Linked DNA regions of Homo sapiens. The protein of the gene in region 1 purifies or fractionates together with the protein of each later gene. This does not show direct contact. Each region holds a gene or a part of one and is shown on either strand. Other genes may lie near its edges. The genes, in order: TULP4 and STXBP4.

Region 1 (3,825 bases):
CACGCTCTGTTAAACTCTCACTGTGTACAAATAGGATATATTTATAGGGTTTAATTCAGCATGGCTCTACCTTACATACTGTTTGAAATGCTAAAAAGCAGATAAAGGCCAGGCAGGGTGGCTCACACCTGTAATCCCAGCCCTTTGGGAGGCGAGGTGGGTGGATCACCTGAGGTCAGGAGTTGGGGACCAGCCTGGCCAACATGGCAAAACCCCATATCTACTAAAAATACATAGCTGGGTGTGGTGGCGCTCACCTGCAGTCCCAGCTACTGGGGAGGCTGAGGCAGGAGAATCACTTGAACGCAGGAGAATCACTTGAACCCAGGAGGTGGAGGTTGCAGTGAGCTGAACTCCTGCTACTGCACGCCTGGGCAACAGAGCAAGACTCTGTCTTAAAAAAAAAAAAATTAGGAAATGATCCTTCATATGATACTCAGATTCACTAGAAGATTCTTTTCATTGTTTTTTCTACCACATTTTACATGGTTCTATTTACAGAAACCTAATGTGCATACATTTCTTATACACATCTGTTGCATGACACTTTCCACACTATCCATCCCATAATCATGAATAGACCTATTCAGAGGCCTAGGCACTGCAAGTCCTCAATGGAGGTTTTTCCTGTACCATTGCCCTCTTCTTGCATAAAAGGGTGGGTATTTTATGAATATCACCAGTAAAAAGCTTCTTCAGACATTTAATTATCTGTGATGGTGCCATTGAGGCACTGGTGCCAAGTTTAGAAGGTTCAAAAGTGAGTTAGTCGAAAAGTTCTGACAGTACCCTTAGCTAACAGACAGCAGCAGGCTGCCCTCAAGAACCCATCTCCCTTGTGCGAGCAGGCCAGCTTTCCCCAAGCAGACACGTCTCTGTCTCTGGCAATTTGCATTTTGTTTACAGAAGGAGACTGGATGAGTCCAGACGTATTGCTTATCCTGATCTGGTTTAATGGCAGTGTTTTTGTAAGCAGTTCCTTTTTCTAATTTTCTTCCAGTGACAGGAGCATCTGGTGTCCCTGAGAACAGCCCACCTTGTACCGTGAACATCCCTATTGCACCGATCCACAGCTCGGCTCAGGCTATGTCCCCCACGCAGAGCATAGGGCTGGTGCAGTCCCTACTGGCCAATCAGAATGTGCAGCTAGATGTCCTGACCAACCAGACGACAGCTGTAGGGACAGCAGAACATGCAGGTGACAGTGCCACCCAGTACCCAGTCTCCAACCGGTACTCCAATCCTGGACAGGTGATTTTCGGAAGCGTGGAAATGGGCCGCATCATTCAGAACCCCCCTCCACTGTCCCTGCCTCCCCCGCCGCAGGGGCCCATGCAGCTGTCCACGGTGGGCCATGGAGACCGAGACCACGAACACCTGCAGAAGTCAGCCAAGGCCCTGCGGCCAACACCGCAGCTGGCAGCTGAGGGGGACGCAGTGGTCTTTAGTGCCCCCCAGGAGGTCCAGGTGACGAAGATAAACCCTCCACCCCCGTACCCAGGAACCATCCCCGCTGCCCCCACCACAGCAGCACCCCCGCCCCCTCTGCCGCCCCCACAGCCCCCAGTGGATGTGTGCTTGAAGAAGGGCGACTTCTCCCTCTACCCCACGTCAGTGCACTACCAGACCCCCCTGGGCTATGAGAGGATCACCACCTTCGACAGCAGTGGCAACGTGGAGGAGGTGTGCCGGCCCCGCACCCGGATGCTGTGCTCCCAGAACACGTACACCCTCCCCGGCCCGGGTAGCTCTGCCACCTTGAGGCTCACGGCCACTGAGAAGAAGGTCCCTCAGCCCTGCAGCAGTGCCACCCTGAACCGCCTGACCGTCCCTCGCTACTCCATCCCCACCGGGGACCCACCCCCGTATCCTGAAATTGCCAGCCAGCTGGCCCAGGGGCGGGGGGCTGCCCAGAGGTCCGACAATAGCCTCATCCACGCTACCCTGCGGAGGAACAACCGTGAGGCTACGCTCAAGATGGCCCAGCTGGCCGACAGCCCGCGGGCCCCCCTGCAGCCCCTGGCCAAGTCCAAGGGCGGGCCCGGGGGGGTGGTGACACAGCTCCCAGCGCGGCCCCCACCTGCCCTGTACACCTGCAGTCAGTGCAGTGGCACAGGGCCCAGCTCACAGCCCGGAGCCTCCCTGGCCCATACCGCCAGCGCCTCCCCGTTGGCCTCCCAGTCCTCCTACAGCCTCCTGAGCCCACCCGACAGCGCCCGCGACCGCACCGACTACGTCAACTCGGCCTTCACGGAGGACGAGGCCCTGTCCCAGCACTGTCAGCTTGAGAAGCCCTTGAGGCACCCTCCCCTGCCTGAAGCTGCTGTCACCCTGAAACGGCCACCCCCTTACCAGTGGGACCCCATGCTGGGTGAGGATGTTTGGGTTCCTCAAGAAAGGACAGCACAGACTTCAGGGCCCAACCCCTTAAAACTGTCCTCTCTGATGCTGAGTCAGGGCCAGCACCTGGACGTGTCCCGACTGCCCTTCATCTCCCCCAAGTCTCCTGCCAGCCCCACTGCCACTTTCCAAACAGGCTATGGGATGGGAGTGCCATATCCAGGAAGCTATAACAACCCCCCTTTGCCTGGAGTGCAGGCTCCCTGCTCTCCCAAAGATGCCCTGTCCCCAACGCAGTTTGCACAACAGGAGCCTGCTGTGGTCCTTCAGCCGCTGTACCCACCCAGCCTCTCCTATTGCACCCTGCCCCCCATGTACCCAGGAAGCAGCACGTGCTCTAGTTTACAGCTGCCACCTGTCGCCTTGCATCCATGGAGTTCCTACAGCGCCTGCCCGCCCATGCAGAACCCCCAGGGCACTCTCCCCCCAAAGCCACACTTGGTGGTGGAGAAGCCCCTTGTGTCCCCACCACCTGCCGACCTCCAAAGCCACTTGGGCACAGAGGTGATGGTAGAGACTGCAGACAACTTCCAGGAAGTCCTCTCCCTGACCGAAAGCCCAGTCCCCCAGCGGACAGAAAAATTTGGAAAGAAGAACCGGAAGCGCCTGGACAGCCGAGCAGAAGAAGGCAGCGTTCAGGCCATCACTGAGGGCAAAGTGAAGAAGGAGGCTAGGACTTTGAGTGACTTTAATTCCCTAATCTCCAGCCCACACCTGGGGAGAGAGAAGAAGAAAGTGAAGAGTCAGAAAGACCAACTGAAGTCAAAGAAGTTGAATAAGACAAACGAGTTCCAGGACAGCTCCGAGAGCGAGCCTGAGCTGTTCATCAGCGGGGATGAGCTCATGAACCAGAGCCAGGGCAGCAGAAAGGGCTGGAAAAGCAAGCGCTCCCCACGGGCCGCCGGCGAGCTGGAGGAGGCCAAGTGCCGGCGGGCCAGTGAGAAGGAGGACGGGCGGCTGGGCAGCCAAGGCTTCGTGTACGTGATGGCCAACAAGCAGCCGCTGTGGAACGAGGCCACCCAGGTCTACCAGCTGGACTTCGGGGGGCGGGTGACCCAGGAGTCCGCCAAGAACTTCCAGATTGAGTTAGAGGGGCGGCAGGTAAGACCTCAGACCAGGTGGCGCTGCGAGCCCAGGAGGCGAGGGTTTCAGTGCTTCGGCCTTCAAGGAGCATTTTTCAAAAGGCCAAATGGGAAATGTGGAAAACAACGAACACCTCTTAGGTGGAGCTCATGGGGTTATGGTTTTTAGTGTGCCCACTGCTGTCTTGTATTTTTTTTTTTCTTTTTGAGACCGTCTCGCTCTGTGGCCCAGGCTGGAGTGCAGTGGCGCAGTCTTGGCTTCCTGCAAGCTACGCCTCCTGGGTTCACGCCATTCTCCCGCCTCAGCCTCCCGAGTAGCTGGGACTACACGTGCCCGCCACCA
Region 2 (3,509 bases), on another chromosome or scaffold:
CACATTGTTGATTTGCCCAAGGTTCTGAAGAAATACCACAGAATGATTTTGGTATAGAAGGGTAGATAAAGCCTGAAACCAAAATACAAGGTTAGTGCATTTCAGAGCAGCAGCAAACTTCTGTTCTTATGGGTTAATTAATCATGTTACTGAAGAATTGATTTGGCACAAGGGAGCTATGTATTGCCACAGAACTCTGAAATTGCAGAAATTATCTCATCTATAAGTAACCCCACTGGAATTGCTTGACTGTTCTGTTTCACAGTGGAGAAATTCATCTTTCATCAGCACACACGAGAAGAGACAACAGGAAGACAAAACAAATTGAGTAGATAATAAAGTTACCTTATAGGAATAGGTAATATAGACAGGTAAGGTCAGAAATTTCTGTGGAATGGAATATGAAAAGATGTTTATGAGCAGATTCTATTTCTTTAGGCAGTTTTATCATTCAGAGAAGTAATCTATGCATTTAATCTAATGCCAGCTTTTATTTTTCTTTGGTGATTACCACACAAAAATAAGAAGTTGGCACCAAATTAAATGCATGGATTACTTCTCTGATAAAAGTACTCGATATAAGGGAAATTTGAAGGAAATAGAATGCATACATACACACACATACACTTAGTATATGTGTGTGTGTGTGTGTGTATATATATATATCTGTGTGTATATACACACCACACACACACACACACACACGTATTGGAGGAATAAGAAATATTTAATAAAATCTACACAATTTCAAAAATATGACCAAATACTGGTGGTTCCTCATTTACCAGTAGAACTCTCTCTACAAATGGAAAGTGAGAAGTCTATGAAGTTACCTTAGTTTTTCCAATTAAGACTGTTCATTGATTGTATTTCTTCTGTCTCTATAAGTACCATATTCCCAATTAGTATTTCATCAGTTATAAGACCCATCATTATTTTGTGTGTAACTGAAAATGAAAAAAAGATTTAAAATATGACTTAGTAGTTAGAATTTTTATCTTATACGCCTTTAAGTAAATACAAGAGAACTGTTTCAGCATAGATTTTTAAAAATCATGTGTGTAAAAGAGAATGAAATATTAATTATGATATTTACAAAGCTCTGTACATTCAGAATTGAACTCTTTCTGCATCTCTTTTTTGAATCAGAGTTGTCATAAACCACAATTTTTCACGGTAACACCCTCTCTGCCATCAGGATAAATAACATTTCTTAAAGGAATATTCTACTGCAGTCTCTGAGATTTTTTTCCCTGTCTTAGACATCCATTCTACAACTCTGATGCTGGCACATTTTTTATCTTGGCAAAAGGACTTAATAGAAAAATTTTAGATAACAATCAGGATTCATACTCTTCTCAATAGTCCTTAAATGGTTTATTGACCAAAAAGTAAAGAAGTAACAGTCCAGTCATATCATGGAAAGAACAACCAAATTCATGCATGCACAGGCAAAGACAACCATATCACTATGACCACCTGGCTGACAGTAACTGCAGGACATCAATTATTGTAAGACACTTCCTGTAATATGTTTAATTCCTCTGACATAAGGATTTATGTGAATTAGGAAGTGGCCCAAGGGTGAAAAGTAATAGGGAAATAGAGAAATAGAACCGATCCAAAGGAAAGGGGGAAAAAAACCCACAAAAAGTGTGATGTCAAGCAAAGCCTATTCTGGAGATGACTTTGGTTCACTCCCACGGGAGAGCCCTAGAGACAAAAAGGTTCTACAGTAGGTTCAAGTCAGAGGCCAGAGAACCCAGAGTATTTATACCTCTGCACCATCAGTTATTGAATGGGGGTGGGGGTGGGGGTGGGTGTAAATTTCCAGGTGCTTCCAGCCTGCAATGCAGTCAAAGCATGTTCCTGTAGCCTGAGGACAGCCGTCCAACAAAGAGGTGCAGGTGCTGAATGTTGAGAGTGAAAGCACAGGGAGCTGTCATGCATGAGAGTGGTAGAGGGATCTGAAAGTGCTAGCAGTGCCTATTATACATCCAAATACTAAAGACGCTTAGATGTGAAAAATGTGTGTCTTAGAATCGATAAAATATGGTATAGAGAATCAAGTCTCCTTGTTCCTGGTTTATCTCATAGCATACTTAAAATTCAGCTAAAGATGAAATGCCTTAACAAGTGAAATGGGCTTTCTGAAAAATTATTTCAATCAAAATTGTGTTAAAAGCTATTTCTAAAAACCCTAACATGAAATACTTAGAAGAGATCAAGTGGTTTGTCCCTGGACATTCAAGCAATTGAATGTCTAAACAATCCAAGACAGATAATTTTGTAGTATTTACTGTGTGAAGTGAACCTTTAAGGCTGTGGACAATGCAAACTCCCTCATGTACCTTGCTCCTTGCCAATTTCAAACAAACCTTCTCACCTATGATATAAGGCTTCCTTAGAATTATTGATTAATTATTTAAGATACAATAAAACCAAAGTATTTTTAAAACACAGTAATTATGTTAGTGCAGGTACATGACATAGATATCCTCAAATATTCTTAGGACATCTATAAATCACCACAAACATTCTGGAAAGCAGTCTTGGAACATCTATCAAAGGCCTTAAAAATTTCTTCTTCTGTGAATTTATCCTCACAAATGACCCCAAGTTTAGACCAAAATAAAAAAATGCTTAAAAGGCTTATTAAAGCATGATTTAAAATAGAAATGATTGCCTAAATTCCTGAAAACAGGGGAATGTCTAAATAAAATATGGTATCTAACATGATAGAAAATGTTTACTAATGTTTAATGATACCAAGAAAGTATCACAATAATAACATCAAGTGGTAATAACAGGAAACAGATCTGTATACAATATAAAACCAACAGTATTGTATATATAAACACCATAGAAGATCTGAAAAAAAATTAGATGACATTATTTGTGATATCTATTTTATTTATTATATTTTTCTGCATACTACTCTACAGTGAGCCTGTCCTTTATAAGAAAAAATGCTAATGATTTATTGTGTATGAAAAAAGTGTATCTGATTTGATTATATATTTTTATTTCCACTTATATTTTCTAGGATTATTTTGCTTTAGAATTCTATGTATAATCCTGTGAAAATTTGTAGTGTTGTAGGGACTGGAAAGATCAGAGATTATGTTATGGCCATGAATGAGGCCTGACCTGCATTGTCAATAACTAAATTGATTATTGTGGAAACAACAAAAAAATTCATTTTTTGAAATGAAAATCTTTATTGAAATAACTATTTTACCATTGTGTGGTCAGATTCACTGCATTTGATGCTTTTTCAGGATTTGTTTTTCCTGCTAGAAATGCTAGAGTTGTCACAGATGTGATATTTATGTTTTCATTGTCTGGGGAGGGCCAAGTTTCATGACAGAGAAAGACTGGGGCCAATTCTGTGATTATGGATGTCAACTTATCTCAGAGCAGTATCATTGGTTGAGCAGTCCTGCAGGACATCTAAGTTTACCGTCTTTATCTTGCCATTGTCAAAGATCCTGGACCTATTTTTTTCT

The links.
Region 2: the proteins of TULP4 (region 1) and STXBP4 purify together in Homo sapiens (affinity purification with mass spectrometry; one large-scale study listed by BioGRID and IntAct). This does not show direct contact.

The regions. Positions count from the first base shown.
Region 1 is NC_000006.12:158,500,678-158,504,502, forward strand, and holds part of TULP4 (tubby-related protein 4), read left to right. Parts: intron 1-1,000; coding exon 1,001-3,501; intron 3,502-3,825. UniProt on the Homo sapiens protein: May be a substrate-recognition component of a SCF-like ECS (Elongin-Cullin-SOCS-box protein) E3 ubiquitin ligase complex which mediates the ubiquitination and subsequent proteasomal degradation of target proteins.
Region 2 is NC_000017.11:55,167,563-55,171,071, forward strand, and holds part of STXBP4 (syntaxin-binding protein 4), read left to right. Parts: 3' UTR 1-3,509. UniProt on the Homo sapiens protein: Plays a role in the translocation of transport vesicles from the cytoplasm to the plasma membrane. Inhibits the translocation of SLC2A4 from intracellular vesicles to the plasma membrane by STX4A binding and preventing the interaction between STX4A and VAMP2.